Homo sapiens: one gene and its partners. The protein of the gene in region 1 purifies or fractionates together with the protein of each later gene. This does not show direct contact. Each region holds a gene or a part of one and is shown in the gene's direction. Other genes may lie near its edges. The genes, in order: BZW2, PTPRK, TVP23C, GALNT2, SLC27A2, GOLIM4 and ABCB10.

Region 1 (4,395 bases):
ATTGTAGTAAAATGTTTGGGGGGTGGTGAGGAGAAAAATAACTTTGCTATGGAAGTAACATAGTACCTCTGTTATATGGCTTTTCCTTAAACTCTGCCATCTTTTACAAACTAGAGGTTTAAACCCTTGCTTCCTAATTGGAAAAGGATTAAGAAAATGCTGGGTATGGTAACTCATGCCTGTAATCCTAACACTTTGGGAAGCTGAGGTAAAAAAATTGCTTGAGGCCAGGAGTTTGAGACCAGTCTGGGAAACAAAGCAAGACTCTCTTCTCTACAAAAAAAAATTTAAAAACTAGCCAGGTGTGTTGGCACACCTGTACAATCCCAGCTGCTCAGGAGACTAAGGCAAGAGGATTGCTTGAGCCCAGGAGTTTGGGGCTACAGTGAGCTATAATCACATCATCTTACTACAGCCTGGGCAACAGAGAAAGACTATCTAAAATAAAAAAAAAGAAATAAAGAAAATGGTTAAGAAATTAATCATTTTCCCCAGCTCATCCAATAAATGACCAAGGGAGATGGGATTATCCTACTCAGAGGAGTAACTATAAAGAAAGTTAAATCTCAGTTTTAGGCTCCTAGTTTCAAGCGTAGTTTTTCTTTACGATACAGATTACAGCCTAGTGTTAATTTATATTAAATTTTATATTGGTTTTATGAGCTAATGATAATGCTAAAAATTCATCTTAAGTTGTTTAACATGAACTTTCAGTTAAGGTGTAATGCATGTTTTGTTGTTATAGCCGTTTTTGTTTTTTTTTTAACTTAGTTTCTTTGCTTATTCAAGGGAAGAAAATCAGGTTTAGTTGGTGTCTATATGAATGATAGACCAATTAAATGCTTTTACTTTCCAGTTGCTGGAAGACCTGGGTCAAATTGGTATATAAGGACATGGATTTCTTATGTAACAATAAATAGAAAATTAGGACAGACCTCAGGCTGAACAGCAGTATCATTCAGGACTTAAGTATTTTTCTCCTGTTATCATTCATAGCATTAACTTCATCCCAAGGATGGTGCCCCCTCTAGTTGTTATAAGATGCCTGCTGACACAGTTATGGCATATTCTTCCTGGTTCAGGTTCAGTGGAAGAACACTTCTCCTGAACAGAGGATAATTTATCTTTCCTTCAGCTGATTGGCTGACACAGGCTGCATGACTAGTGCAGGTCCAGTAGCAATTGCCAGGGGCGTGCCTTGGGCAGATGAGCTTAAGCGAGGTCACTAAATTAATCATCAGAAAGGGGTGGTACCAGGACTTAGACTAATCAGTAGTCACCTGGACTGGATAAAAGGGGACCTCTTTTAGGAAGGAGGTAAAGAGAATAGAGGCTGCTTAGGCCACATTATCATTAGCTCATAACAATAGTAGAACCTTCAGTTTAGAAAAATCAGTTAAATGTTTCAGTTACATCTTAACTCTTCATTAAATAACCGCAACATAAATTTAGAAATTTGAAGTGTTCATAGAACTGTCTTCTTGTTATCTGATTATTTCTATTTGGAAATAAGTGGTAATGTAAATGTGGACATGTGATTAAATGGTTTCCTGATTTAACATAACTAGCTTAATAATGATTTTTTTTTAAATCCAGAAGAGTTTAACTTGAAACAGCCTTGGTATTTTTATAGCTTAACTCAAGAATATTTTAAAATGCTTTTTATGGCTGCGTGCAATGGCTCATGCCTGCAATCCCAGCAATTTGGGAGGCCAAGGCAGGTGGATCACCTGAGGTCAAGCGTTCAGGACTAGCCTGCCCAACATGGCGAAACCCTGTCTCTACTAAAAATACAAAAATTAGCTGGGTGTGGTGGTGCATGCCTGTAATCCCAGCTACTTGGGAGGCTGAGGCAGGAGAATCACTTGAACCCAGGAGGTGAAGATTGCAGTGAGCCGAGATCGTGCTACTTCACTCCAGCCTGGGCGACAGAGTGAGACTCCATCCCCCCAAAAATAAAAATAAAAATAAATAAATAAAATGCTTTTTATAAAAAGCAAAACTAAGGTAAATGATATGTGTTCATCTATTCGTAGCAATACTTATTGTATCTATCACTATCAGTGTTCTTGTACTGGCATCCTTTATTAGCAAATTACTTGATAAAGGTGACATTACAGTTTTGTGTCTCCTAATTTACTTTCTTGTGCCTCAAGATCACTGTTATAAAGATGAAATACATATGAACCAGAGGGTGAAATAAAGGCAATAACACCAAAGATACTGGGTGTGAAATATGTTTTTGACCAAGGTAAAATAAAATAAACTTGCAGTTAGACCAGGTTGGATTCAAGGAGTCCAAATTTGAAAAATATTTTAATTTATTTTCCTTTTCCTGAAAATGTTCTAGTTTGAGTAATGAGAAGAGGAGAATTTGCCTAGAGGTCTATTGACTTTTCATTTGTACCAAAATTAGTCTTTTAGTTATTTACACATTTCAGGAAACCTGGTTGCTTTGCACACCATCACAATTGGTTTTGCTCGTAAAAGGAATGAAATTCTCTTTTGTTTTTCAACAGGCATTGCGGCCTCATTTGCTGTCAAGCTTTTCAAAGCATGGATGGCAGAAAAAGATGCCAACTCTGTTACCTCGTCTTTGAGAAAAGCCAACTTAGACAAGAGGCTGCTTGTAAGTGTTTTCTGGTTAAAGAGTTGTATGTATGATGCCTTTCTTGGAGCTTAAGCAATGCCTGCAATGTAGTATATGAGTAAGATCCCTGGATCTGTGTTGACTTGGAGCACTGTTCCTTTTATTTCTGTGTAATTGGTAGTAGAAGCTAATTTCATTTTAATCTTTATTTTGTGAACAAATGGCACAATAAAATTAAAGAATTGTGAAGAATATAGACTTCCAAATTTGTAAGTTTGTTGACATAGTATTAACATTTCATCAGAATTAAGACTTTGTTTTATAGCCATAACTTTTTTACTTTTTTTTTTTTTGAGACAGAGTCTGGCTCTGTCACCCAGGCTGGAGTGCAATGGCACAATCTCGCTCACTGCAACCTCTGCCTCCGGAGTTCAAACAATTCTCCTGCCTCAGCCTCCCGAGTAGGTGGGATTACAGGTGCTCTCCACCACACCCAGCTAATTTTTGGATTTTTTTTAATAGAGACGGGGTTTCACCATGTTGGCCAGGTTAGTCTTGAACTCCTGACCTCAAGTAATCCGCCCACCTCAGCCTCCCAAAGTGCTGGGATTATAGGCGTGAGCCACCACACTCAGCCTATAATCATAACTTTCTAGACATTTTAAGGTTTTAATATGATAAAAATTTCATCAATCTCACTTAATCAAATACTTGTGATGTCTGTCTTGAGTAGCAGTCAGACTGTGCTAATCTCAAATGTGTGTTAAATAGTTTGCTAACAAAATAAAAGTTTAAACAAGATTTCCCTGGAAATACTTAAGCTGTTGCAGAAATTAAACAAGTTAATTGTGTCACAATTGCTTGATTATATTTTTATTTCTCCATCTTTGTGTTTTTCTAAGAAAATCCAGAAAAATATTTTGTTCTTGTAATTTCTATCTGCTCCCTACAATTTCTTTCTTCTTGATGCAGCAGCTGTGAAATGCCAAGATTTCTCCAGGTGGAATTGCTTTTACAGTTCTAGGATGAAGTGTAAAAATAAGACACAGCGCTGCCATCTCTTCACCTGGCCTGTTCTCTGTTGTTCTCTTCCAATGTGTTTCAGTGTGCAAGGGTCCAGTCCCATGAGATAATTCTAAGACTATCTCTTTTCCTCAAGAACACATGAAAGTAATTTTAAATGTAAATACTTGCAATTTAAATCACTTAAGAATACTTTGTTTCTTGAAGTTTACCTTAAATAGATTTGTGTGTTTAAAGTTTTTAGATTATGGTAAAAAAGGTACAGAAGTCTAGATTCTAGTTCATAATAATTTTCATTCCTCATGTTTCCTGAATGTCTACCCTGTGCTGGGCATGGTACCACAAGCTGCAGAGCCAGTAGAGAACAGGATAGAAAAGTTGCCTGCCCTCGTGAAACCTACTTTCTAGTGGACTTAGGGCAAATCCCTGTAAACAGAAGCAAAAGTCACAGAAGATAAGTGAATAGGTTGCTGAGGAAGGTGGAGGTTCATATGAAGGGAACATATTTCTTGTCCATGAGGCTGTGGGTTGTCTATAGATTAGCTCTATCTTGGCTAAGCCTGGCTTAGTTCCACATGCCTTTTCATTCGGGCACAGGCTGAGGGAGCAGCTCCCATCTGGGCCATTCTGTCTTCATGGCAAAGTACCAGAACACAGAGACTGAACTGAACGTCTCAAGTACCTTAAAAACTCACCTATGGACGCTGCCATGCCTGGCAATAGATTGGGAAAATCCAATCCACTAATAGGCTGCTTCTCCACCTCTGCAGATAGACATAGCA
Region 2 (4,395 bases), on another chromosome or scaffold:
TCATTAGTACCCTTTTGCCAGGTCTATGAGGGATTAGGAGCTAGGGCCAAGAATTCTGTAATTTCAAAGCCTTACATATGTTCCTGCATTTAGAGGGAAAAAGAATAGGAAGTCTTCAGTCTTCTCCTCTCTTATCAGCTCCTCCTCATGCATATCCCCTCCCCTGTGGCTCAAAAAATGAGTAGATAGCCGTCAGTCTGCTTTGACTTACCTTTGCATGGAGCAGACATTTGATTGGAAGAAGAGCTTCCTTTCTTCTAACTTTTCTCATTGTATTAGTTCATTCTCACACTGCTAATAAAAACATACCTGAGACTGGGTAATTTATAAAGGAAAGAGTTTTAATTGACTCACAGTTCCACAGGGCTGGGGAGGCCTCAGGATCCCTGCAATTATGGCCGAAGGGGAAGCAAACCCGTCCTTCTTCTCATGGTGGCAGGAAGGGGAAGGAGTGCCAAGCAAAGGGGGAAGCCCCTTATAAAACCACCAGATGTCATGAGAACTCACTCACTATCTGGAGAACAGCATGGGGGAAACTGCCTGCATGATTCAATTATCTCCACCTGGTCCTGCCCTTGACATGTGGGGATTATTACAATTCTAGGTGAGATTTGGGTGGGGACACAGAGCCAAACAATATGACTCATGAACCTTCCTGCCTTTCTTAGGAGACACTCATCCCAGCTGCACGTGTAACTTGGTAAGGTTTTGAGGTCATTTAGAAGTAGCCAGGTAAATTATTATTGTCATCTACTCAGATTTATCCTGCAGTCTTCAGCCAACGCTGAATGCCATGGTTGGTAGCATTTCCCAAATGGTGGTAGCATCAGTGAAGTCCAAGAACCAGTTCCTGTGCTGATGTTAAGATTCTTGAAGGACTTAAATAGTAGTATGATACAAATGAGTTACAAGATCATTGAAAATTTTTGTCAGCATTAGGGAACTCTATAATCTACTAATTATTATTATTATTATTGCAAATAATTAGTTTAAATCAAATGGCAATTGTCCAGTCCAGATAAATATTGTTTTTACTACTTCTCCCTTTGGAAAGAGATAATATATTGTGTTCTAATCAAGGAGGACTTGGTTAACAAGGAGCTATCTCCCCGCTTATGTGGGGACAGGAAATATATTGCTGTTATGCTTTGGTGCTTCAGGATCTTAAATGGTTGAGACTGTCATTATGACCTTTGATATATGTTAGAAATGCCCAGGAAGCTGTGGAAGGTGGATTGTCTGCAAGATGTGCAGAATATCCTGGTAGTGTCCACATAATGTAAAAGCACAAGTGTTTGAGCTACTTGTGGTTTTTCTTATTTGGAGTGGAGAAGAGTAAAACAATTTTACTTGCACGCACACACACTATACACATACCCAGATGATTGATAGACATACCAGGGGTTTTGTGCTTACTTTGCCTTCAGCCTCTCAGAGACTGATTACGTTTGGAAAATTGAAATAGCCCAACAGGAACCTTACAGAGGATGTTAACCTCAGAAGCTTTTTAGTTTCTTCTTTTGTATTTGTCCTGTATTTACGTCTTTCAGTAAAGTAAAAACTCAGTTATTGACTTGAATTGCTTTGGAAGCATTGAAGTCTTCCACCAAATTGATTCATTACTGTACTAATTCAGTTCATTCCAGTGGTCTGAATCTCCTATTCCATGGTTTAATCATCACTCTGGCTCCTTCTGCATATGAAGCTATTGCATCTTACTGGTCCTACATTGAAGTGTATTGTATCTGTTTGTACAACCGATCATACATTTTAAGTTTTTATATTTCTCCATCTACCTTGTTTCTTCACAGAGCTACAGGCAACCAGCTGCTTTCATCGTCACACAATACCCTCTGCCAAACACTGTAAAAGACTTCTGGAGATTAGTGTATGATTATGGCTGTACCTCCATTGTGATGTTAAACGAAGTCGACTTGTCCCAGGTTAATGGCTATGGATTGCTTTTATGTACTTATATACAACTTAATAGAGTAGTAATGAATTGCTAAAATCTGCTTTATACTCTCCTAACTAGAAAAAATAATACTCTTTTTTTTTTTCTTTCAAAACGTTCATCATTTAGGGCTGCCCTCAGTACTGGCCAGAGGAAGGGATGCTACGATATGGCCCCATCCAAGTGGAATGTATGTCTTGTTCAATGGACTGTGATGTGATCAACCGGATTTTTAGGATATGCAATCTAACAAGAGTAAGTCACTATCGGATCCTTTGAGCTGATCTAGAATAGGTCAGTCATAACCAAGATGTGGTATAATTTTATTCAGACAACAGGGAGACTACAATTAATAAGCACTATATCATCCACCTCAAAGCTAGTAACCATCTTATGCCTTAGTACTCGAATAAAAATACAGGAAAACAGAAATGCTGGAAGCTAGGTTTTTCGGTCAGTCACTAGACTAGCATATTCTCTCAGGAAATACAGATGCACTGGCTCAGTCAAGTTGGACAGCCTAGGCCTGGCCTCTGAGTGTATGTAGACTTATCTTAAGGATGACTGCATGTTTTATTAGTATTGACATCCAGCCCAGAAATGGCATGTGATAAAAAAAATAAGAACATTGCAATAACAATAATGACAGAGAAACTGTACTGCAGGAGGAAAGAGACATGTTGGATCAACCATTATAGAAGGGTTCCATGTCACTGTTCCAAGTTCATTATTGATTATCCTACCTGCAATTTCATCTTCCTAAACGTCTCAACCTATGGCTCTAAGCAGATCTAAAGGTAGAACCAGTGCTGCTACCACCATGCCTTTTCCCAGCAGCAAAGTAGTAACTGTATCGTCTTTCTCTGACTCCTCATTTGCTTTCCACTACATGACAAATTCAATGTGGGTGGGGAAGATCTTAAAAAAAAAAGTGCTAATAAAGCCCGGGCACAGTGCCTCATGCCTGTAATTCCAGCACTTTGGGAGGCCAAGGCGGGCAGATCATAAGGTCAGGAGTTCAAGACCAGCCTGGCAACGTGGTGAAACCCCATCTCTACTAAAAATACAAAAATTAGCTGGACATGGTGGTGGCATGCCTGTAGTCCCAGCTAGTGGGGAGGCTGAGGCAGCAGAATCATTTGAACCCGGGAGGCAGAAGTTGTAGTGAGCTGAGATCACGCCACTGCACCCCAGGCTGTATAGAGCGAGACTTCGTCCCCCAAAAAAAGATATTAATAAAAACAATTTAGATTATGTAACCAAATAACAAGCAGAATTGGAAAAGAAAACATTAGTAACTTTCATGAAATTAAGCTCTTTTTAGAGAGAAACATTACTCTGTTTTTTAAAGCACCAGCTCTGTGGGTATGTATTTTAAGTGTGTGATTAGGATTATCATGTTTCAGTGTCTCTCATATCAAAATGACTACGTGTGTGTCTGGTTAATAAGTCTATATGTATATAACTATGAGCAGGGAATGGAATCATATCGACTCCTATTGCTCATTTCAGTGGAGAAAAAAAGGATAACTTCAATCATCTCATAATATTCATGCATATCTTAGATGTTAATTTAAATGGAATCTCATTATGTCTGCACATCTGTTACATTATGGTTCTAGTAATATTTGAGTTGGAAAAAAACAGAACTGCTGAAGACAGTAAGGCTTGTCTGTTAATTGAGCAGTTTATGTGAAAAATATTCTAGGAACAGGAACTGAAATGTTATATTTTTGTCAGCATATTTATTTATTTGTTTGCTTACTTATTGAACTGCCTCTGTATTTGGTATTCTGGTCCTTATTAGTACATGATTTTTTTTCTGTTCTCACTCTCATCATTTAATATATTTAATATATTTAACTGCATCAAACATTTAACATGTACCAACAAGTTTGTAGAGTACTAAGTAGGGCTTGTAATCTACCAAAAGATGCATGGGCTCTTGCCAATCTGATATGATTTACTCATATATTACATATTCTTCCTGATATTTTTATTTCAAGGTTTAAGGTTTTGATTCATTCTTTCAACACTACTACTTTTGGGGAAGTATTATGCAAAGTTCTACTGATACAGAGTGTAGGAAAAAAAGATTTCCGTGTACTTAAGGAATCTTTATTTTTTTCAGGAAGAAAAGCATTACATGAAAATTGTATAATCCTTTTTGTATAAAAGTGATGCATTTTACAGTGAAAGAGTAAAGAATATAGAGTGTTTAACTGGGTGATCTGACATAACTGTGTGATCAGAGATGACCTCTTTGCGATAGTAGTATTTAAGCCAAAATTTAATGAATCAATAGAAATTAGTTGGGGGTTGATGTAACCCACCATCCTGGTTTGCCCAGGGCAGGAGCTTTCCCAAGACACACAGCCTTCAGTGCTAAGACCAGAGAAGTCCCAGGCCAACCTGGGACAAGTTGGTCATTCTATTTGGGA
Region 3 (3,899 bases), on another chromosome or scaffold:
TTGAATCACAAGAAGACCATAACATTTGTACTCAGATGTTTTTTTCCCCCTAGAACATAAGGATTTTACTATAATACCTCAACATCAGGGTTTTCAGCAGGATGAGTAGTAGTCATAGGTAAATAATTATTGGTTAAATCTCTTGGGAAAAGTGACTAGGTCTTTTTTTTTTTTTTTCTTGAGATGGAGTCTTGCTCTGTCGCCCAGGCTGGAGTGCAGTGGCGTGATCTCGGCTTACTGCAAGCTCCGCCTCCCGGGTTCACGCCATTCTCCTGCATCAGCCTCCCGAGTAGCTGGGACTACAGGCGCCGCCACCACGCCTGGCTTTTTTGTATTTTTAGTAGAGACGGGGTTTCACCGTGTTAGCCAGGATGGTCTCGATCTCCTGACCTCGTGATCCGCCTGCCTCCGCCTCCCAAAGTGCTGGGATTACAGGCGTGAGCCACGGCGCCTGGCCGTGACTAGGTCTTTATATGAGTAATACCTTGCATTTGGTTAGTACAGTAGGTTGGGCAAGTGATATTATGTAGGACAGGGATTCTTAAACTCGAACATACATGAGAATCACCTAGAGGGCACAAGATTGCTGGGTTCCACCTCCAGACTCCTTATTCAGTAGATCTGGGGGTGGAGTCTCATAATTTGCATTTCTCCCAAGTTTCTGGGTGGTACTGAGGGCACTGGTCCAGGGATTACATTTTAGATAACTAAAGCCCCGAGAAATTAAATTATTTACTTAAGATTATACAGCTAATAGTGGTACAAAGCTAGATCTTAAACCCAGCCCTCTGTACTCAAAATTTATTGTTCTTTTTATTCTACTGTACAGTTTCTCTCACAGAAGATGAAAAGTAGAGAAAATGAATATTCATGTAGGGACATGATCATCTCATTCTGAAGGATTTTTGCATGGCTCCAATATACCTTTACTGTGGTCCACCTTAGGGTAACTTTCATGTATGTGCTTATTAGGTTTTTTTCGTTAGAATTTTCAGTGTTTCTGAAGGTGGGGAGGAACATGGAATACAGGTGAAATTAAACCTTAAACCTGGCATAACATGGATAGGGTTAGTGTCTTACATGGTATCCGGCGTCTGCTCAAATGAGACAAACTGGACAGCTGGGTGGATGATGGTATCCATGGATTTACTTCATTAGCGCATGTCTACTTTTTTATTTATTTATTTTTTTTGAGACAGAGTCTCACTCTGTTTGCCCAGGCTGGAGTGCAGTGGCGCGATCTCGGCTCACTGCAAACTCCACCTCCCGGGTTCATACTATTCTTCTGCCTCAGCCTCCCGAGTAGCTGGGATTGCAGGCGCCCGCCACCACGCCTGGCTAATTTTTTGTATTTTTAGTAGAGACGGGGTTTCACTGTGTTAGCCAGGAGGGTCTCGATCTCCTGACCTCATGATCCACCCTCCTCGGCCTCCCAAAGTGCTGGGATTACAGGTGTAAGCCACGGCGCCCAGCCTAGCATGTCTACTTTTTAATGTGATTGGGCCATTGTATGTAAGGTAATGCTCTGCTTAGAAATATAGAATGTTTTCCTAGGCCTAGGCCCCAAGTCCATGGTGTGTGAAGTGAAATAACTTTGATGTTAAGGAGTTCTTTTTTTGTCTTTTGCGGAACACTGGAGATGATCAGACTTCCTGAATAGAGAAAGCTTATGTGCTTTGTTACATTGGGGAACAACTGAAGAGATTCTTGACTCAACCTTTTAGAGCTTAGTCCATGTTGCAACGAGGAGTGTTGGCTTTGTTTTTCCACTTAAAAACTTTATTTATAAAAAGGAAAAGTAGTTTTCATATTAAGTTTTTATTTCCTTTCCAGCAGTTGGGGCTAGAAAGTATATGTTGGCACTAGAAACATTGTTAAGATTTGTTCTGTGGTGTAGGTATGCACATTCCATAGGTATGCACACGGCCATGTAATACCTGTATATCCCAAGTTAATGAAAGTGTTCATTTACACAGATAATGGAGACCTTTGCATTTTGATCCATAGAACATAGGAGGATGTTCTTAGTCTGTCTCAAAGCTCTATATGTTTACATATTATTTCTGTAGATTGTTTTCAGGAGAAAGTTTTGCTTCTATGGTAAGAGTGAGCACTTTGGCTTATGTATAAGTTAGAAATAATTGTTAGTTTTTAATATGTACTTCATGGGGAAATTTCTTAGACGTATGCAAGCAAGTGAAAACAATTAGGGCCAGTGGTATTAACTACTTTATAAAATTTTATTTTTGTTTGTAAGAAGTTATCTACTTAAGGCCCAGTTAATATAAGTGGAATCATCATAGTTTAAGGAATACCCAGAGATTGCTGCTATTCTATTTATTTTACAGAAAGGATAGCTAGATTGAAAGTTCTTCAGTGGACCTTGAGCTAATAGATCTTTTACCACTAAAAGAGCATTATTCTCATGTCATAATGAGAATAATAATTTACATACTTGGCATAATAAATGCCTAAAAGACATTTTATTTTCTGAATCTATTTTTTTCTTGCTATAATGGGGATATTGTAAATTATGCATTTGTATTAATGGTATTTCTTAAAGCAATCTATGTAACTGTAAATTAAACCAATCTACAAACTATTGTAGGCATCTGTAAATTCTGTTGTAGGTATTATAAACTTTGTTGAAGTCTTAATCAGCAGATTATGTTGTGAATATATTTGTACATTGTTAAAATAGTTTTTAAGATTATTTGTTTAATTGAATAAGTGTCTTATTGGAGTGATAGCTTTGAAGGTGCAAAACTTTATATTTGTATAAAATTCTACTATTTACAAGGCATTTGACATGTGTAATCTCATGTAACCCTCATGATAAATATGTAATACTTTAGATGATATAACTGAACTTCAGGTTAATGAGTGACTTTCCCAAGGAAAACAGATTGCAGGAATATCTGTAGGATATAAAACATGATATATTAGTATTTTTTAGAGAAAATATTTGCTCTAAATGCCCTTTCCTTTCTTAAAAATTAATAATTTGTTAAGAGCTTGTTTATTTTACTTAGCTGTTCTGTCTGGTGAGAATTGATACTGCACTAAAGACATTTTAAAATACAATCTGAAAGATCTAACCTAAATCTTTAGGGTTGAGAGTCTAACAAAGGATACATTGGTGTAGTTCTTTAGGTAACTGTGTTATTTGAACTGCATCCTAAACCAAGTAACAATGAATTTTAGAATATGCATGTGGTAGGAGCTACCCTGTATTCCCTAATATTCGTTTTTCTCCTTCTACAGATTTCCCACCTAATTAGCTAGGGAATGGCATCCTGGAATAAAGATAAAACTTTTCCTAGATTTTATTGCTGTATCTTGGTGTGGCCACACCACCAAGTTTGGGCCAATGGATACACTTCCAGGAAGTATCCTTAAAAGGAGGAGGCACGCCCATCCCTTCCCCCTTTTTCCTGAAAGGTAGACACAATAGCAGAAACTAGAGCAGCCATCTTGGACTATGTGATAAAGGCTTCGTTTTGTGAATGGCAGAGAAATGAGGTAGATACTGTCTGAATCCCATCTTGTGGGTATAGTAGCCCTGAACTACTTGTCTGAATTTTTTTTTTTGAAACAGAGTTTTTGCTCTTGTCACCCAGGCTGGAGTGCAGTGGTGTGATCTCGGATCATTGCAACCTCTGCCCTCTGGGTTCAAGTGATTCTCCTGCCTCAGCCTCCCTAGTAGCTGGGATTACCAGCCTGCCACTACACCTGGCTAATTTTTGTATTTTTAGTAGAGACGGGATTTCACCACAATGGCCAGGCTAGTCTCGAATTCCTGACCTTAGGTGATCCGCCCGCCTCAGCCTCCCAAAGTACTGAGATTACAGGCGTGAGCCATCGTATCTGGCGACCTGTTTGAACTTTTAATAAAAGTG
Region 4 (4,395 bases), on another chromosome or scaffold:
GCCCTGTTGACAAAAAGCCTGATGGCAGAGAGCTTAAGAGGATTGAAAGATGCATGCCCTAGAGTCATTAGGTTTTGCTGTCAGACCCTTGGAATTGGAAATGCAGCACCATGAGCCATGTGTTTGCCAAGAAGTGGCCTCCTGATGCACCAGGACAGCTTCCGCAGGTGGAGCCTGCTGGCCTCCAAGAGGCACTATGTGTGTGACCCTGGGAGCAAGAGCGAGACCTGAGGCCCTGCAGATGCCCACAACCAAGTCCGGGTACAGGGTCTAGGCTCTTCTATCCTCAGGGGTCTGTGGATTCCAAAAATGAAATGCAACAGGTGCCAAATATATCTGAAATTGAAGCTTATTTGCCCAGCTTGGCAACTTCCGCTGGCTCATTTTCCCTTAAAGTTTTCATATTCCCAGCATGTTCCCACTCCATTCTTGCTGCAAATACAGTCTGAAGTTTGCTGGCCCAGGGAACTGACAAAGCCTCGTTCCCTCCCCAGCATTGCCTTCCCCTGGGGCAGTGTTGGAGGTACCACGGCTTGATTTTCATGTTGGATGCTCTTTTTCCTCACATCCTTACAGCCCTTGGACATGCCCTGGTTATCACCACACAGACCCCAGTTCTCTCCCCATATTTCATTTTTTCCTATGCATTTCAATATTAGAAAAGCCTGACTCACATTTTCTTTAGGGAGGGGCAGGGAGAAGATTTCAACATTCACCCTCACTGCCGGTCTCTCTCTTCAGCTACACCCACGCCCCCAGTCCCCTTCTCTCTCCTCCACACCTTCTTTTTTGGCTTTGTTTTGGTTTTCATTGAGTTCTGTCCAAACATCGAATATTTTTAAGCTGTGAGGAATGGGGGTGTCGGGAGGAAGTGGCCAGTCTCTTGTCAACACCCTGTTTCTTTTCCTGGCTGGCAGGTTTTGATTGGAACTTGGTATTCAAGTGGGATTACATGACGCCTGAGCAGAGAAGGTCCCGGCAGGGGAACCCAGTCGCCCCTATAAAGTAAGTGCCAGCATCCTTCAGGGTGCCCCTCCCAGATGAGACCCCAGGTTCCAGCTTCTTTGCTGGGCCCGCACCGCCTGGAGACCCAGTGGGGGCTGTTCACCTTCTGCCCTCCGGTTTCCCCTCGTCTCAGCTCAAAGATGAGCACCTTCCACCAGGTCATAGAATAAAATCCTTGGAGATTTCTTTTCCACAGTTGAAGTCTCACATAGGTTTATAAGGCCTATCTGCTAGGTCTGTGCATTCCTGTATGTTGATAATGTAGAGCGTTTCTGTAGCAGAGCAGGATCTCCGAGCTGACCCCAGGCCCAGGAAAAGGGGCTTGGTGGGCAGCAGGAGGCTTACTGCTGCTACTGCCCAGCAGGCCTTTGCTCTCCTGCAGAGGAAGGAGCCCATGCTCATGAAGCCCATGCTTTTAAGATTCCCAGGCCGGGCGGTGGGCTTTCTGGTTGAGAGTCAGGATGCCTTCTCTAGCTGGGGAGAGAAGGGGGCCACCTCTTCCAAGTTGGCACACGGTTAAGTGAGATAGCATTCACAGAGTACTTAGCGCTGAAATATATTTGCTGACATTTAGCCAACATCTGCAGTGTGCCATAGACCTTCCCAGCACTTTACACTGAATTCGCACAGCATCGCTTCTGGGAACAAAGTAGGGAGCTCAGTGTACATCTGTTGTCAACCCCTTCCTGGGATGATGAAGTGAGGAGCATGGTGGGTTCCCTTGTAGGAGGTGGAGTCTCATCTATGATAGTGATAATGAGAGCTGGTGCTGTGGAGCATTTCCTAAGCGTGCTCAGGGCTTTATGCCCATGATTTTTTGCAATCCTCGTAGCTACCCTATAAGGAAACTGACACACAGAAAGGCCGAGTTCTTTGCCTATGGCAGCATGTCAGTGAGTAGTGATCCAGCCCCAGCAGTCGCTCCCACATAGGGGAGGCTCAGTCCAGCCCCTGGCACTGTGGGAACATCCAGGCAGGGACAGTGGGGGAGGCATTTGAAGGCAGCAGTGGTGAAGCAGAGAGAGTGGCATGCTGGGCACTGAGCAGAAAACAGTGGCAGTGTGGCTGTTCTGAAGATCAGCTTATTGTTAGGGAATCAAGGCTTGGCCTTGGCGCAAGGGTGCTGGCAATCTAACCTTGACTTTGCCCTCTCCTCCCTCCCCCCTCTTCTTTCTGCCTCTTTAGAACCCCCATGATTGCTGGTGGGCTGTTTGTGATGGATAAGTTCTATTTTGAAGAACTGGGGAAGTACGACATGATGATGGATGTGTGGGGAGGAGAGAACCTAGGTATGTACAAGCCTCAAATCTCAGGACAGAGAAGTGCCTCAGCTCTGCAAAAGGCAGGGTGCCAATTGGAAAAAAAATTTAAAAGGCTTCAGAGTGACCATTCACTGGGCTTAATCGATCCTTGCAAACACATATGTAACACCCCTTTTGCTCTTGAAAGTCTCATGAGTTGGGCATTAAAATGTGCCTCCCTAGGTTAGAGTGGAGGATGCCAGAATACGGATAAAGTCTTTGAAGGGAAATGCAAACTCTTTCAAGGCGTCTGAACCCAAGTGTTTGGAATGTTGCAGGCTTGCAAAAACAGAGGGAAACAGTCCAGGAGCTCAGATTCATGCTGAGTGGTGGAGAGTGGAAAATGAACCCCGGCGAGGCTGGTGGGATTGATTGAATTGAAATCATGAAAATCCGATGGGGCAGGGAGGCCTTGGCACTTAATCCCTTCTCGACTACCTTTGCGAATGGTTCTCATTTGTTTTTCTGTTTGTTTGTTTTTTTGTTTTTAAATACCCCATGCAAATTATTTTTACCCAGGTTTAGGCACAGCAAAATTTTGCACATTGTGGTCTATATTGGTAGCCTTATATTTACTGCATAAAAGATGAAAAGATGTGTTTTGTTTGTTTAGGGTTTGGAGTGGGGGAGATCTTTTTTGCTTGTTTCAATTAAAGCCTTTTGTTTCAAATGCTTGACATTCTGAGCGAATTCTCCTGGGCTGCTGAGTGTTGTTAACTTACATTCGTCCTTGGGTGAGTGTACCCTGGAGGACAGGGGAGAAGGAAAGGGGAAAATGAGGCCACTCATTTTTAATAGTTTTGAGACTTTGAAAGTTTTTGTTACTTTAAAAGAAAAGACTAGCCTAGCCTATTATTTTTCCATTGTTTTATGATGTTGAAGTCAGTGATACCATCTCATCTTTGAGGATTTCTCTGCCTTGGTTTGATGTTGAAAGCTTCTTTAGGCTCGATTACTATACTGCACGGGTGGAGAGACCGTGAGTCAAACTCCTTTTGGGTTGTTTTAAAAAAATGATACATTAACCTCTAGGGAAAGCTTGGATTGAAGTCACTTGAGTACAAAAGGCTTCAGAATTGTTAACCCTCTAAAGAGAGTTCTGTCACCCTGTTCCATGGGTATCCCCTAATGGTTTAGTGGAAATCCAGCAGGCCAGGGTCGCCCAGTAGGGCAGCGTATCGTGTAGGTGGCCATTTCTCAAAAACAGTGTGGTTTTCAGAAGTTTGCATACTATTAGCTGAAATGAGACATCAGCCAGCATTTTGTGTCATCGTGTAGGAAGAGTGTTGATTTACATATCTAAGGAGGCATTCACCCAGAGACTGGGGGGTAGATTTGTTGTAAGGAGCTGCTTTATTGTGGTTTGGTGTTTGTATTTATTATGTAGCTGTGCTAGAAGGTTCTAGGGTCTGAGCGGTTCAGGTTGGGGTGAAGATGAACCCTGCAAGCAGGAGCACATCTCTGCCCAGGAAGGCTGGGGCATCTGTCCCTCCGTGAGGGGCTCTCCTGGGTTATGCCAAGGACTTGGACTCCCAGTGAGGTTTGGAGGGCTCAAGAGCTTCACGTGAGAAGGCCATGCCGTGAGCCTTTCTCCTTAGCACTGCTCTAGCTTCTGCTTCTGGGGGCCGTGCACACTACTAGCCATTGCCAACCTGAGGGGCCTCTGTGGGTGTGCATTGGGAGAGGTGTATGGTGCAGAGAGGCCCGAGTAAGATCCAAAACCACCTCCTCAACGTGTGCCCCGCTGGAATGACCAGAGCTTCCCATTTTCCTAATCATGTAAGTCCTTATGTCATTTAAGCAATTAAAATGGAGGACCAAGAACCTAACCCTTAACTCTAACAATGGGGGTAAGGCTCCTTGGGGGCATCATCTGTGTTTCTCTACATCCCTGTCATGCAAGGATGATGCTAAGTACTTCCAGGGAATCATCTGTTTGTGCTTTCTTAACGGAGTGTGGTCTGCAGAGGTCATGACACCTTGCCCAGGGTCTCAGAACCAAGATGTAAACACTAACTGCCTAATTAAAAAGCCATTGAGTTTTACTGAGTAATTATCCTCAAAGTTATAGGGTTCAAATGAAATCAAC
Region 5 (4,395 bases), on another chromosome or scaffold:
ACAAGTGCTGCAGGAAAACAAGCAGAGGTCAAGAGAAGGCTTTTTGGGGCACTGACTATTGAGCTGAACAAATGCAGTGGGGGAGGGGGCATTCCAGGCAAAAGGAGCACCAGAGGCAGTTCTGATCAGGTGCTTAAAACAGTGAGATGCTTCATTAAAGGATATTGCGATGTAAGAACAATGGCAGTCTGGACCTAATAATAGTCATTTTTTTAAGCTGTTTCCTGAAGGGACAGGAAATGGAAAAAATAGGGACTCAGAGAGTCCAAAGAATGGCCAACAGCAGTGGCCTCACTTCCACAGAAGGAAATATTTAATTTTCTAATGCCAACTTTAGTCCAGAATCAAGGCACAGAAATAATCTAATCTACACTCTTCCCAACTCTTTGGACTGCCCAAGGAGTAACTTAAATGAGTTGTTTCAATGCACTTTGTCTCAAAGGCTTAGAATTCTCTCATATATCTTTGAATAATTCCCTAGTAATGTCTAGCACATAGTAGGCAGGCAGTCAATAAGTGTCTGTTGGGCAGGGCACGGTGGCTCATGCCTGTAATCCCAACACTTTGGGAGGCCAAGATGGGCAGATCACCTGAGTTCAGGAGTTGGAGACCAGCCTGGCCAACATGGCGAAACCCTGTCTCTATTAAAAATACAAAAATTAGTCGGGCATGGTGGCGGGCATCCGTAATCCCAGCTACTCCGGAGGCTGAGGCACAAGAATCACTTGAACCTGGGAGGTGGAGGTTGCAGTGAGCCAAGATCACACTACTGCATTCCAGCCGGGATGACAGAGTGAGACTGTCTAGATAGGTAGATAGATAGATAGATAAATAGATAGATAGATAGATAGATAGATAGATAGATAGATAGATAGATGCATACAAACATACATACATACATACATACATAATGGATAGATAATGTCTGTTGAATTAATGGGTTCCATTATTCTGGTTGATTGTGACAGGCTTTCTCTCCTGAAGCTTAAGGACCACTGGGTTGGGCATGAGGGCCTGAAAAATGATGTAACAAAATCAGATGTGAAAAAATCCATTTAAACTCAATCTACCCCAGGCCCAGCCTTACCCTACCACAGGCTTACTTACCTCTCAAAGGTCCTCCTAATCAATGACTCTGTCCAGCTCTCTGGCAGTACATGGTAGGACAGCGGTGCTCTCCTTGGGTCTCAGTGCAGCAAGTAAGCAGGTGGTGAGCACAGGATGGGCTGGAAAGGACCTGTGAGTAGGGTGGTGGAGGACCCTGTACAAGGACAGAAACCCAGACACCAAATGATTAATATATCCAAGGGCTGGGATTCCCAGCCTAGTAGCCCAAGGAAAGATAGCTTAAAGATATTCTCTAAGATTTTTCTTCTCTCCCTGCTCTTAACTAAAGCTTGCAAAGGAGGTGATTGTACATCTCCATCCAAGAACAAAACTAGCACTTTGCTGGCATATATGGGAATGCACTTTATTTTCTTCAGAAACAGGGACTGAAGAGGTAAAAACAAACTCTGAATCAGGTGTTGTTATTGAATCTGAAAGAGAAGGATAGAGTTCAGATTATTCTATATAATAGGTGCTAGTATTTGAAAAGGACCTTCCCACAGCCTCTGAGAAAAGGGAAGTAGATCATTGGTAGAAAGATGACATGGTTGCTTACAGATATCAAATGCTAACAATTATGTAAGGCCTTATGTGACCTGGTAACTCATGATAAGGAATTACCTTTGATTCCAGGGCTATTTAGAAAGCAAGAGTTCATATAAGCAAGAACTTTAACTTGGAGAAATAAAAATTAACATCAAGGAGATTACTACTTAATTACCTAAATGTAAAATGAGTATGTATTTCCTTGTTAAATTTTTGCTTACTCCTGGTGGAACTTAAACATTTTTATGACCTCCGGGTGATTTGTGTGGGGAAGAAGGAGGAGCACATGCATGTCTCTCTCTCTATATATAGTATTATAATGTGCATCATCTTGCTGTACAAAATACTGTCATTCCAAACTGCCAATGATTGAGATGCAAAATTACAGTTACAAATGGCATTTTAGGAACTATTTTTAGGTTGTCTTCAAGGACTATGTTATTAATAGCACCAGTTTGCATTTCAGTTGCTTTTCTGAATGAAGAAAAGAGATAAATCTTCAAGCTTGACTTGCTCATCAACCAACCATTTCATGATCAGAGTACATTTCCTTTCACTACCTTCCTTTTGGACCTTACCTTCTTGGTAAATATTTCTGGGGTGTTTTGTTTAATCCAGTCAGTTACTCATTCACTGAGGCAGTCTAGTAGCAGAACAAGCTACTAGACTGAATGTTTTCCTATTGGAAAGCTGCAGGTTTAGCCTGAGCACCTGACACCTTAGTAATGAAGATTGATTCAGCTCACCACCTACCCAATCTCTCTGCCTTCTAGCAATGGACTTGTTTATTCAGAAAATTCTTCCTTTTTCCTTAAAAAAAAAAAAAAAGGCAGGGGCAGACTTAATATGCTACCTTAATTTTTTAAAATTTTCTTTGAACAGACTTTAAAGGGGATGGGGGAGTAGTGTTGTAATCACTTGATTTTTCAACACCCAAGTGTGTGCTCTTTCTCTGTGGGTTTATTTCAGTCTACAACTTAAAACTAGACTGATGAAGAACCGACTGATGGAGCTGCTCTACACCCTTCAGGCAACTTTCTGTGACCACTGTTTCTCATACTCAAACTTTTAATAAAGCTTGAGGTTTTGCTCTTCAAGAAAAGATCATCCATGTTACTCATTAAATGCAGATCCACATGATTGAACAAGCACTGAGCAGAAGGCCAAGCAGCCAGCCTCTTCCAAGAAATAAGGCACTTTGCTAGAACTTAATCTGAATGGCTCATACAAGGAGGTGGGAACCTCAGAAGCCCAGAATGATTCTTTTCATTTTGCATGTGACCCTCCATACACTGACTTGGTGAGCCTCTTCTCATTTGTAGAAATAAGATTACTGGTATCTATATCACAGAGTTGTTATGAAAATTATGTGAAGTGATGTATGTAAAACTATACCAACAGTTCTATGCAAATGAAAATTTTAAATGTTTGTTATTAGTAAAGAGAGAGGTGGGTGCATGCTCTGATGTGCCACCCAGATCCCTGCTTTAGGACTGACGGACTCACTCTTCAGCTGCTGGGAGCTCTCAGCTGAGACCTCTCCCAGGACTTCTCCTTGGTTGAAGAGAGACACTTTGCCCAAGGTTAAGCACCACCACCCCAGCCTGAGTCCATTGGACTGGTCAATGGGCAGGTGTGAAGGCACAGCCTACCTCCCTTAATTTAGGAGGTAACTCTGAAGGGCATCCCAGGTCCAGAGTCCCCTTAGGATTAGAGGATCTGCTGAGGGAGACTTCTGTTGTGACTGCATTACAGTTCAATGTCTCCCTCTATCCAGTCTGCTTCCCTTGCAGCCTCACAGGTCCCATTCCCAAGAGCACTCCTGCATGCACATCTCGGAGTCTCAGAGAACCCAACCTTGACAAATAGAATTATAGGAGCTTACATGTTCTGATTGATAGATGAGCAGACTTTACAATAAAAATTATAAAAGGTAGATAGATATTTTATGCTTGCATTAGAAAATATGTAGGCCAACCAGGCAGTGGCTCATGCCTGTAATCCCAACACTTTGGGAGGCCAAGGTGGGCGGATCACTTGAGGTTGGGAGTTCAAGACCAGCCTGGCCAAATTGGTGAAACCCCATCTCTACTAAAAATACAAACATTAGCCGGGCATGGTGACAGCCGCCTGTAATCCCAGCTACTCGGGAGGCTGAGGCAGGAGAGCCGCTTGAACCCAGGAGGCAGAGATTGCAGTGAGTTGAGATCACGCCATTGCACTCCAGCCTGGATGACAGAGTGAGACTCCATCTCAAAAAAAAAAAAAAGAAAAAAGAAAATATGTAGGCCCAAACATATCTACAAAAGACTCAAGAAAATAAAAGACATTAAATATCAACTAGATAGTTGACAGGTAGATTCACATCCAGAATTTCCTTTCAAATTTCTTTTTTCTTTCTACATCTTTAAGGGAAGAAAGGCTTCCATAGTGTGTCCAGATATGGTTGGCAAGCCGCTGGAAACTCAAGTCTGCCCAAATAACAAATCTACACCAACAGCCTAGAGGAGATGGAAGGAGATGGTGTAGGGCAGGGGCAATGGCCCTCCCTTCAGATTAGATGACTTGCATAAAAGGTCAGGAATCACAAACTACATGCCTGCAGAGGGCCAGCTGGGAACATGAATGAAGTACACATGAGGTGAAGTTGCTTGGACTGTGATCAAGCATGACACCAGCTTAATTACATTTCCTTTTATTATTAATTTTTCATGCTAATACCTGAGTACATTTTTCTTTTTT
Region 6 (4,395 bases), on another chromosome or scaffold:
CCTAATTTCTGAATAATGGCCTTTATTTGCAGTATTTCATTTTGAAATTTTAGAAATTTCTTTTCTAATTTGCCTTTTCTTTTTTTAGTGGTGGTGGTGGTAGTGGGGAAGAGAGGTGGTAAATGGTAATACAGGATCATTAAAATATACAACTTTTGTTTTGCAGCAGATGGAAATGTTCTACCTAATTTGAATAAGTGGCTTCAAAGTCCCTTTCTTAATTTATTCTTTTGTCATTTCCTCTCTAATTATGGTGCTACAAAACTTGCAGTATAATTGTGCATGAATAATTATTTCACAAGCAGGCTAAAGTATTTTTTTGTTTGTTTTTGTTTTTTGTGGATTCACTTTTGACTTCAGTAGCATTTATTTTGGATTTCCCATGTGTAAGCCATTTAATGTACATTTTCTGGTGGTATGCAACTTTTGCTTCCCTTTTCCAAGACAAATGACATTTTACTCAACAGCACTGTGTACCACCTGCATAGATGGGCTTTTAGGACATCAGGCTCTCCAGTCTTAATACTTGTTTAGTTAGGTGGGATTGCTTGACCTGGCTTGGATTAAGATCAGAATTAATGACTTTAAAAAGAGTGGTCTTTTTAAAAATGACTCTTGAAAAAATTTCAGTAGTTTAGACCTATAATCTGATGATGTGCGTTCGTTAAGTGAGCGTATTTAGGTCACCTTCAGTTTAAGAATAGATTATACTCCATAGATTCCTTTGAAAGTGGGTTACTTGTAACCCCAAGTTAACAAGTTTTATTGTAGAAGAGCCCCATAACTAGAAGATGGTGGGGATGGCATGCAGAAAGGTCAGAGACTAGGCAAACCCCTTCCACTATAAAAATATCTATGTCTGCCTGTTTATCTATCCCTCTTAGCAATCAGTCATCTATTTATCTCCCATACTGGCACCTTAATTATACTGAGGAGTGGGACAGAGGTCACATACTGGTGGCAAAGGTAATAACAATCTTTGGCCAGCACAGTGTTTATATAACCTTTAAAGTTTTTAAACTGCTTTCAAGTGAGCCATGCTCCATTGTCTGTATCTATAGGCAGTGTTTCTCAGTCTAGACTGCCCATTAGTATCACCTGGTGGCTCCCAGACCAATTAAATAACAGTCTATGGGGGGTGGAACCCAGGCTTCAAAAGTCTTTAAAGCTCCCCTGGTGATTCCTGTGTGCAGCCAAGGTTGAGAGCCACACCTCTATAAAAAATCTTAAAACTGAGCCTTTCCGTGCATTTACTTTACTTGTTTGGCCCCAGAGACACTTGAATTTTTTATCTGAGTATGTGATTAAAAGCAGACTGGTTTCTAGACTGTAATTCAGTTCTAGTTCTACAACCTTTTGTGTGAACCTTGACGTTTTTCTTATTTATAAAGTGGAGATTAGAATAACCTATTTTATAGAGGTATTGTGAGGATTAATGAAGATGATAGACTGTAGAGCTCTTAGCACATACTTGGCATATAGTAGGTACTGCTCGTTAAAAGTTAGCTGTTATCAGAATCCCTCTTTGAGGTAAGCTGCTTTATCCCTTTTACTCTTGCCAGGTTTGTCATGGGTAATTTCAAATTTTGAAATTGGCAGAATTTGTTTATGTAGCTAACCACCTCCTTTTATTGTACCTTAAATGAACATCAAGGAATATGCAAACATCCAGTGTACTTTAATCAGAAGAAAGGACCTTCCTTGACAATTTAAACTTGGACTGCGGTTACTGATTAACTCTGTTCTGGATCATATCAGATTAGGAGAGGGTGTGACTGCTAAGGTAATAATTATGTGCTGTGAGATCTGGGAGAGAGATATAACTATTTAAATTTTTATAAAAGGCATTTAGTGTAGAGGCAAAGAGCCTGACATTCCTAAAACACAGTATTGCAATGCTTTTGGACTTCCAGGGATAAGGAGAAACCATCCAGAAAAAGTTTATGTAAGGTTTATATGTTCCTATTCCAGATGAATATGTTACAACTATTTAAAATTTTAAAAAAAGGTCACAAATGTGACGTGTAGAAGTGCAGAGTTACAAGTGTGGATTTCTCACATGCATATATTGAGTTGTGGTGAAGTCTGGGCTTTCAGTGCACCCAAAGAATGGACATGTTTACCCCACAGGAAAATTTCCAACTCTCACCCCCTGCTAGCCTCCCACCTTTTGTAGTCTCCACTTCCACTCTCTATGTCCATGTGTGCCCGTTGTATAGCTCCCACTTGTAAATGAGAACATGCTATCTTCGACTTTTCTTTTTCTGAGTTATTTCCCTTAGGATAATGGCCTCCAGGTCCATCCATGTTGCTGCAAAAGACATGATTTCATTCCTTGTTACGGCTGAGTAGTATTCCATGGTGTATATATACCACATTTTCTTTACCAGTTCTCTGTTGATGGACGCTTAGGTTGATTCCATATCTTTGCTGTTGTGAATAGTGCTGCAATAAACATACAAGTGCAGGTATCTTTTTTGTATAATTATTTATTTCCCTTTGGGTATATACCTAGTATTGGGATTGCTGGAGTGAATGGTAGCTCTATTTTTAGTTCTTTGAGAAATCCTGATACTGTTTTCCAGAAAGGTTGTGCTAGTTTACATTCCTACCAACAGTGTATAAGCATTCCCGTTTCTTTGCATGTTTGCCAACATTTGTTGTTTTTTGACTTTTTAATAAAAGCCGTTCTGACTAGTGTAAGATGGTATCTCACTGTGATTTTAACTTGCATTTCTCTCATGCTTAGTGATGTTGAGCATTTTTTCCTATGTGTGTTGTCTTCTTGTCTAGCTTCCTGTTAAAAATGTCTTTTCATGTCCTCTGCTCAGTTTTTAATTTTTTTTTTTCTTGTCAAGCTGCTTGAGTTCCTTGTAGCTTCTGGATATTAGCCCTTTATCAGGTGCATACTTTGCAGATATTTTTTCCTATTTTGTAGGCTGTTTACTGTGTTGTTTCTTTCGGTGTGCAGACATTTGTTATTTAAGTGTTTTTTGCATTGGGCTCCTCTAACACTCAGGATGGCCCACTGGCCTAAGCATGAATACATCTTGTCATTGGTTACTTCTTTGCTTTCAACCTTCCCTAAATCTACTTTTAGAAAGGAAACATTGGCCAGGCACCCTGTCTCTCGCCTGTAATCCCAGCACTTTGGGAGACTGAGGCGGGTGGATCACTTGAGATCAGGAGTTTGAGACCAGCCTGGCCAACATGGCTAAACCTCATCTCTACTAAAAATACAAAAATTAGCCAGGTGTGGTGGCACATGCTTATAATCCCAGCTACTCAGGAGGCTGAGGCATGAGAATTGCTTGAACCTGGGAGACAGAGGTTGCAGTGAGCCCAGTCACCCCCCTGCACTCCAGCCTGGGCAACAGAGCGAGACTCTGTCTCAAAAAAAAAAAAAAAAAGAGAGAAACATCTTCAGCACAGAACCAGGCTTTTTTTATTCCTTCATCTCCAGCGTCTGGTGCCTGGTAGTACCTATGTAGTACTTTTTCTTGGCCTATTAATGTGCATATATATGGTGGTATTGTGCGCAGTGAGGTATAATAGATACAGGCTGAGGCGTCAGAGCACTTGGATTTGATTTTCTGCTATCTTATTTTGCTAGCTGTGTGGTCATGGGCAAGTTATTTAACCTTTCTGTGACTCAATCTATTCATATGTAATAATCAGGATAATAGTGCTTACAAAAGGTTATCTTGAGAATCAATAGTGTTAGCTGATGTGCAGTGCTTAGAAGGGTGTAGCTTGCATTTTGGATGATTGAGGAAACATATACAACAGAGTGGTTCATAGACCTCAGCAATTTAGACCACAAGTGTGGGCAATGTGTGGTAGGTGTACTAATTTTCAAGTGCAGCGTTAGAACTTAAAACATGAACTAGACATTGTCTATTAAATGGACATCTTCACTGAAGTACAACTTAGAGTTAAATGAAGAGACTATCATTTTTGCTTGATCCTGTACCATTTAGAATATGGAACAAAAATACTCTTAAGTTCAGTAATTTTTATTTGTGTGTAAATTCCTTCCCTGAATAAAAGATAAAAGCTTCCAAATACCTTTTGAAGCTCTAATTCAGTGAAGCATTCTTTTGAATATGTATGATTTGCACATAATCTATAATCGATTTCACACGTTGTGCCCACCTTAGTCATCCCTCTAATATGTAACATGCCAACTCTAATGAGAGTACTGGTGTCCAGGTAAATAATTGGTTGCTGTGTAAGAGAATTACTTGTTATCTGGGAGCCTTTAGTTTAAGTTCCAAGTAGATTGGAAGCCTTGCCTTGATTTCTTTTTATTCTTTCTTTTCTTAGGAAGGACAGTTTCCAAAAGGGCTGGGGTACAATACCACATTACTGTGGCTGAAGGAATAAGTGAATTGG
Region 7 (4,395 bases), on another chromosome or scaffold:
GTCATCTATACCAACCCCACTGTGGACTACAGCGACAACCTGACCCGCCTCTGCCTAGGGCTCAGTGCCGTGTTTCTGTGTGGTGCTGCCGCCAATGCCATTCGTGTCTACCTCATGCAAACTTCAGGTAACAGTCTCTCCTCTCAGGGATGTGAGTCATCCTGAAGAAGATGTAGAGTCCTGTGGGTTTGTTCGGGCTCAAATCTCATGTGCTCCAGGCTCCATTCTCTTCCTCTCTTCCTGGCATCCCATTAAGTGGGGATAGAGTCCAATGACTGCCCAGATGTTGGAGTTACAGATTATTTTAGATCAAGCACTCTCAACTCTTCTTTTATAGTTGAAGTTGAGCTGTAAGGGCAATCATGTCGGTCTTATGGGAGGTTTGAAAATAAGCCCCTCGGGCTGGGTGCCGTGGCTCATGCCTGTAATCCCAGCACTTTGGGAGGCTGAGGCAGGTGGATCATGAGGTCAGGAGTTCGAGACCAGCCTGGCCAACATGGTGAAACCCCGTCTCTACTAGAAATACAAAAATTACCCGGGCGTGGTGGTGTGTGCCTGTAATCTCAGCTACTCAGGAGGCTGAGGCAGGAGAATCGCTTGAACCTGGGAGGCAGAGGTTGCAGTGAGCCCAGATCATACCACTGCACTCCAGCATGGGGGACAGAGCGAGACTCCATCTCAAAAAAAAAAAAAAGAAAAAAAAAGAAAATGAGGCCCCTGGCCATGAAGCTGGACTTCTGAGGCTTCCTGAAGGCTTCAGAAACCCATTTACATGCCCCATGCTTGTGTTTCTCCTTAAGTAGCAGCTGGGATGATAACTTTGTTAGTATTTCTCTGAAGAGGTCTTGTTTTTACAGGCAGGTCACTGCCACAATAATGAGAGAACCTGGGACACCAACTCGAAGTCTGTTGCTCTCCATTTATCTCTGTGGATAATTAACCAATTCTTGCCATTTGAAGGTTCAATACAGGAAAGGGTTTCCAGGGAGGAACAAAATGAGCTTTTGGAAGTTAATGTAATAAAACTTCTTTGTAAATAATACCTTAAAAAAATCTCGGCCAAGTGTGGTGGCTCATGCCTGTAATCCTAGCACTTTGGGAGGCTGAGGCAGGAGGATTGCTTGAGCCCATGAGTTTGAGACCAGCCTGAGCTACATAGCAAGACTCCGTCTATATAAAAAATAAAAATAAGTTAGCTGGGTGTAGTGGCGGACATCTGTAGTTTCAGCTACCCAGGAGGCTGAGGTGGGAGGATGGCTTGAGCCCACAAGGTTGAGGTTACAGTGAACTGTGATCGTGCCACTTCATTCAGGCCTGGGTGATAGAGCAAGACCCAGTCTCTTAAAAAAAAAAAAAAAGTAAAAATAAAAAAGGCCTCTGAGTCATGTTATATTTATTTTATTCCTGTATCCTCTCACTAGCGCCCACAGTCTGTAGTTAATAAGAGAAAAGTAGTGTTAGTAGTGCATGACAGTTAATGTGCCTGGTTTGGGAAAGTCTCTTTCCACCCATGGGATACAGTGCAGCAGACACGCTCAGAGGCTGCATTGCTCAGGAGGGTTACAACTCCAGGCCAAGCTGCTGCACAGTAAGTGGCTGCCCCATAATGGTAATGGATGTCTTTACCCTTGGTGAGCCTGTTCGTGTTTGCTTTTGCAGGTCAGCGCATTGTGAATAGGCTGAGAACTTCATTATTCTCCTCCATTCTGAGGCAGGAGGTTGCTTTCTTTGACAAGACTCGCACAGGAGAATTGATTAACCGCCTCTCATCAGACACTGCACTCCTGGGGCGCTCAGTGACTGAAAACCTCTCAGATGGGCTCAGGGCCGGGGCCCAGGCTTCCGTAGGCATCAGTATGATGGTATGTGGGCCTGGTTCCCCTTGGTACCTTCCTGCCAGGGCTTGGCTTGCACCAGGCCTCTCACGTGTGAGACGAGCTCAAGCTGAGCGGTTCGCATCATTCTGTAAGTGCCTAGAGCCAAAAGTGCTGTTGCAGAAGCTGCTGGAACGTGGGGATTGCCTCTGCCTGCATGGCCTCTTGTACCTTCATTTCTCCAGAATGAGTGATTATCTGGAAAATGGACTCATGTGTTACTGCTGGGTATTCTGAGATGTGTGTACCCGGGGTATTAAGGCAGAAAAGAGCATCAGGTAGAAGGAGCACTGGGTACTACCCTGTGGGTGGCACCAAGCGGTGACTAAATTCCATTCCTCTGTGTGTGTAAGTCGAACTGTGCTCTTTTAAGGGGAGAGCTCTTCACTCCCATGGCCTTTTTTCCTTTCCTTAACTGGGTGGCTTGTGCCTGTCCTGTCTGCTTGCCTTACCTCTTCAACCAGTATTTCTATTCAGCCCAGTGCTGCAGGTCATTGGAGAGGCAATGCAAGCCACATATGTGATTTTAATGTTTTAGTAGCCACATTTAAAAAAGCAAAAAGAAGCCAATGAGATTAATTTTTTTTTTAATTTTAATTTTTTTAGAGACAGTCTCACTCTGTTACCCAGGCTGGAGTACAGTGGCAAGATCATAGCTCACTGCAGTCTTAAACTCCTGGGCTCAAGTGATTCTCCCACCTCAGTCTCCCAAGTATCTGGGACTACAGGCACACACCACCAAGTCTGGCTAATTTAAAGAATATATATATATATTTTTTGTAGAGGCAGGGTCTCTCTATGTTGCCCAGGCTGGTCTCAAACTCTTGGCCTCAAGTGATCCTCCTGCCTCGGCCTCCTGAAGTGCTGGGATTACAGGCTTGAGCCACTGTACCTGGCTGAGATTAATTTTAATAATGTTTTGTTTAAGCCAGTATAAACAAAATATTGTCATCTCAAGATGTAATTAATATCAAAATTATTAATGAGGTATTTTATATTATTTCTTTCATATTATAGTTGACCCTTGAACAATGCAGGGGTTGGGACACTGAAGCCCACACAGTCAAAAATCAAAGTATAACTTTTGACTCCCTAAAAACTCAACTACTAATAGCCTACTGTTGACCAGAAGCCTTACTGATAACATTAACAGTCAATTACCATGTATTTGGTATATGTATTATATACTATGTTCTTATAACAGAGTAAGCTAGAAAAAAGAAATGGTATTAAGAAAATCATAAGGAAGGTAAAATATATTTATTATTTATTAAGTGGAAGTGGATCATCATAAAAGCTTTTTTTTTTTTTTTTTGAGACGGAGTATCGCACTGTCATCCGGGCTGAAGTGCAATGGCACGATCTTGGCTCACTGCAACCTCCTCCTCCCGGGTTCAAGTGATTCTCCTGCCTCAGCCTCCCGAGTAGCTGGGATTATAGGTGCCAGCCACCACGCCTCGCTAATTTTTTTGTATTTTTAGTAGAGATGGGGTTTCACTATGTTGGCCAGGCTGGTCTTGAACTCCTGACCTCGTGATCTGCCTGCCTCAGCCTCCCAAAGTGTTGGGATTGCTGGCGTGAGCCACTGCGCCCGGCTCATCACAAAAGTATTTATCCTCATTGTCTTCACACTGAGTAGACTGAGAGGAGGAAGAAAGGTTGTTCTTGCTGTCTCAGGGGTGGCAGAGATGGAAGAAAATCTATGTATAAGTTGACCCATGCATTTCAGACCAATGTTGTTCAAAGGTCAACTGAATTTCCAAATCTGGTGTGTATTCTCTACTTAAGGAACATCTTAATTCGGATGCTAAATTTTCATTGAAAGTACTTGATCTATATTTAGATTTTATAAAATGTACAATTGAAAAAGTAGTTTGACATACTCAAGTTTTCCAGACATACTTAATAGTTTGCCAATAACTGAATGGAGTATAGGCTTTTAAATTTTAATTAAACCTAAATACAATTAAAAAGTCAATGTCTCAGTCATACCTGCCACATTTCAAGTTTCCAGTAGGGCTATCGTTTTGGGCAGTGCAGTTCTAGACTCGTGGAATAAGAACTGTAAATAATCCTTTCTCACAAGTGGAAAAGCTTGGATTCTGTCCTTTGTGTCCCATGAAGCACTTAGAGAGGAAGGGTGTGTTGCCTATTAGATCTGACTTACGGAATGAAAAACAGCTTTGAAATCTCATGATTTTCCAGCTAAGAGAGAAGCAAACCTCTGGAAGAGGACCCTTCCTGCACTAACATGCCGTTTTCCAAATATGAATAGTTTTGGGGATCAGGAAGAGTTCAAGCTGGGAAAAATCACTTGGGGTACTTTTTGTAACAAGGAAAGGGAATTCAGTGTAGGTCAGATGAGCAATTCAAAGGGGTCTGTTTGGGATGCCATAATAATACCACAGACTGGGTGGCTGAAACAACAGAAATGTATTTCTCACAATTCTGGAGGTTAGAAGTCCAGGGTCAAGGTGCTAGCAAAATAGTTTCATTCTGAGGCCTTTTCTTGTGGCTTGGC

The links.
Region 2: the proteins of BZW2 (region 1) and PTPRK purify together in Homo sapiens (co-immunoprecipitation; one large-scale study listed by IntAct). This does not show direct contact.
Region 3: the proteins of BZW2 (region 1) and TVP23C purify together in Homo sapiens (affinity purification with mass spectrometry, with the first as the bait; 2 studies listed by BioGRID). This does not show direct contact.
Region 4: the proteins of BZW2 (region 1) and GALNT2 purify together in Homo sapiens (co-immunoprecipitation; one large-scale study listed by IntAct). This does not show direct contact.
Region 5: the proteins of BZW2 (region 1) and SLC27A2 purify together in Homo sapiens (affinity purification with mass spectrometry; 2 studies listed by BioGRID and IntAct, with this or other methods). This does not show direct contact.
Region 6: the proteins of BZW2 (region 1) and GOLIM4 purify together in Homo sapiens (co-immunoprecipitation; one large-scale study listed by IntAct). This does not show direct contact.
Region 7: the proteins of BZW2 (region 1) and ABCB10 purify together in Homo sapiens (co-immunoprecipitation; one large-scale study listed by IntAct). This does not show direct contact.

Annotation. Positions count from the first base shown.
Region 1 is NC_000007.14:16,687,278-16,691,672, forward strand, and holds part of BZW2 (eIF5-mimic protein 1), read left to right. Parts: intron 1-2,519; coding exon 2,520-2,629; intron 2,630-4,395. UniProt on the Homo sapiens protein: Translation initiation regulator which represses non-AUG initiated translation and repeat-associated non-AUG (RAN) initiated translation by acting as a competitive inhibitor of eukaryotic translation initiation factor 5 (EIF5) function.
Region 2 is NC_000006.12:127,974,471-127,978,865, reverse strand, and holds part of PTPRK (receptor-type tyrosine-protein phosphatase kappa isoform b precursor), read left to right. Parts: intron 1-1,811; coding exon 1,812-1,943; intron 1,944-2,083; coding exon 2,084-2,209; intron 2,210-4,395. UniProt on the Homo sapiens protein: Regulation of processes involving cell contact and adhesion such as growth control, tumor invasion, and metastasis. Negative regulator of EGFR signaling pathway. Forms complexes with beta-catenin and gamma-catenin/plakoglobin.
Region 3 is NC_000017.11:15,535,884-15,539,782, reverse strand, and holds the end of TVP23C (Golgi apparatus membrane protein TVP23 homolog C), read left to right. Parts: 3' UTR 1-2,803; downstream 2,804-3,899.
Region 4 is NC_000001.11:230,248,267-230,252,661, forward strand, and holds part of GALNT2 (polypeptide N-acetylgalactosaminyltransferase 2 precursor), read left to right. Parts: intron 1-917; coding exon 918-1,005; intron 1,006-2,190; coding exon 2,191-2,294; intron 2,295-4,395. UniProt on the Homo sapiens protein: Catalyzes the initial reaction in O-linked oligosaccharide biosynthesis, the transfer of an N-acetyl-D-galactosamine residue to a serine or threonine residue on the protein receptor.
Region 5 is NC_000015.10:50,188,152-50,192,546, forward strand, and holds part of SLC27A2 (long-chain fatty acid transport protein 2), read left to right. Parts: intron 1-4,395. UniProt on the Homo sapiens protein: Mediates the import of long-chain fatty acids (LCFA) into the cell by facilitating their transport across cell membranes, playing an important role in hepatic fatty acid uptake.
Region 6 is NC_000003.12:168,088,785-168,093,179, reverse strand, and holds part of GOLIM4 (Golgi integral membrane protein 4), read left to right. Parts: intron 1-4,395. UniProt on the Homo sapiens protein: Plays a role in endosome to Golgi protein trafficking; mediates protein transport along the late endosome-bypass pathway from the early endosome to the Golgi.
Region 7 is NC_000001.11:229,544,966-229,549,360, reverse strand, and holds part of ABCB10 (ATP-binding cassette sub-family B member 10, mitochondrial), read left to right. Parts: coding exon 1-127; intron 128-1,659; coding exon 1,660-1,862; intron 1,863-4,395.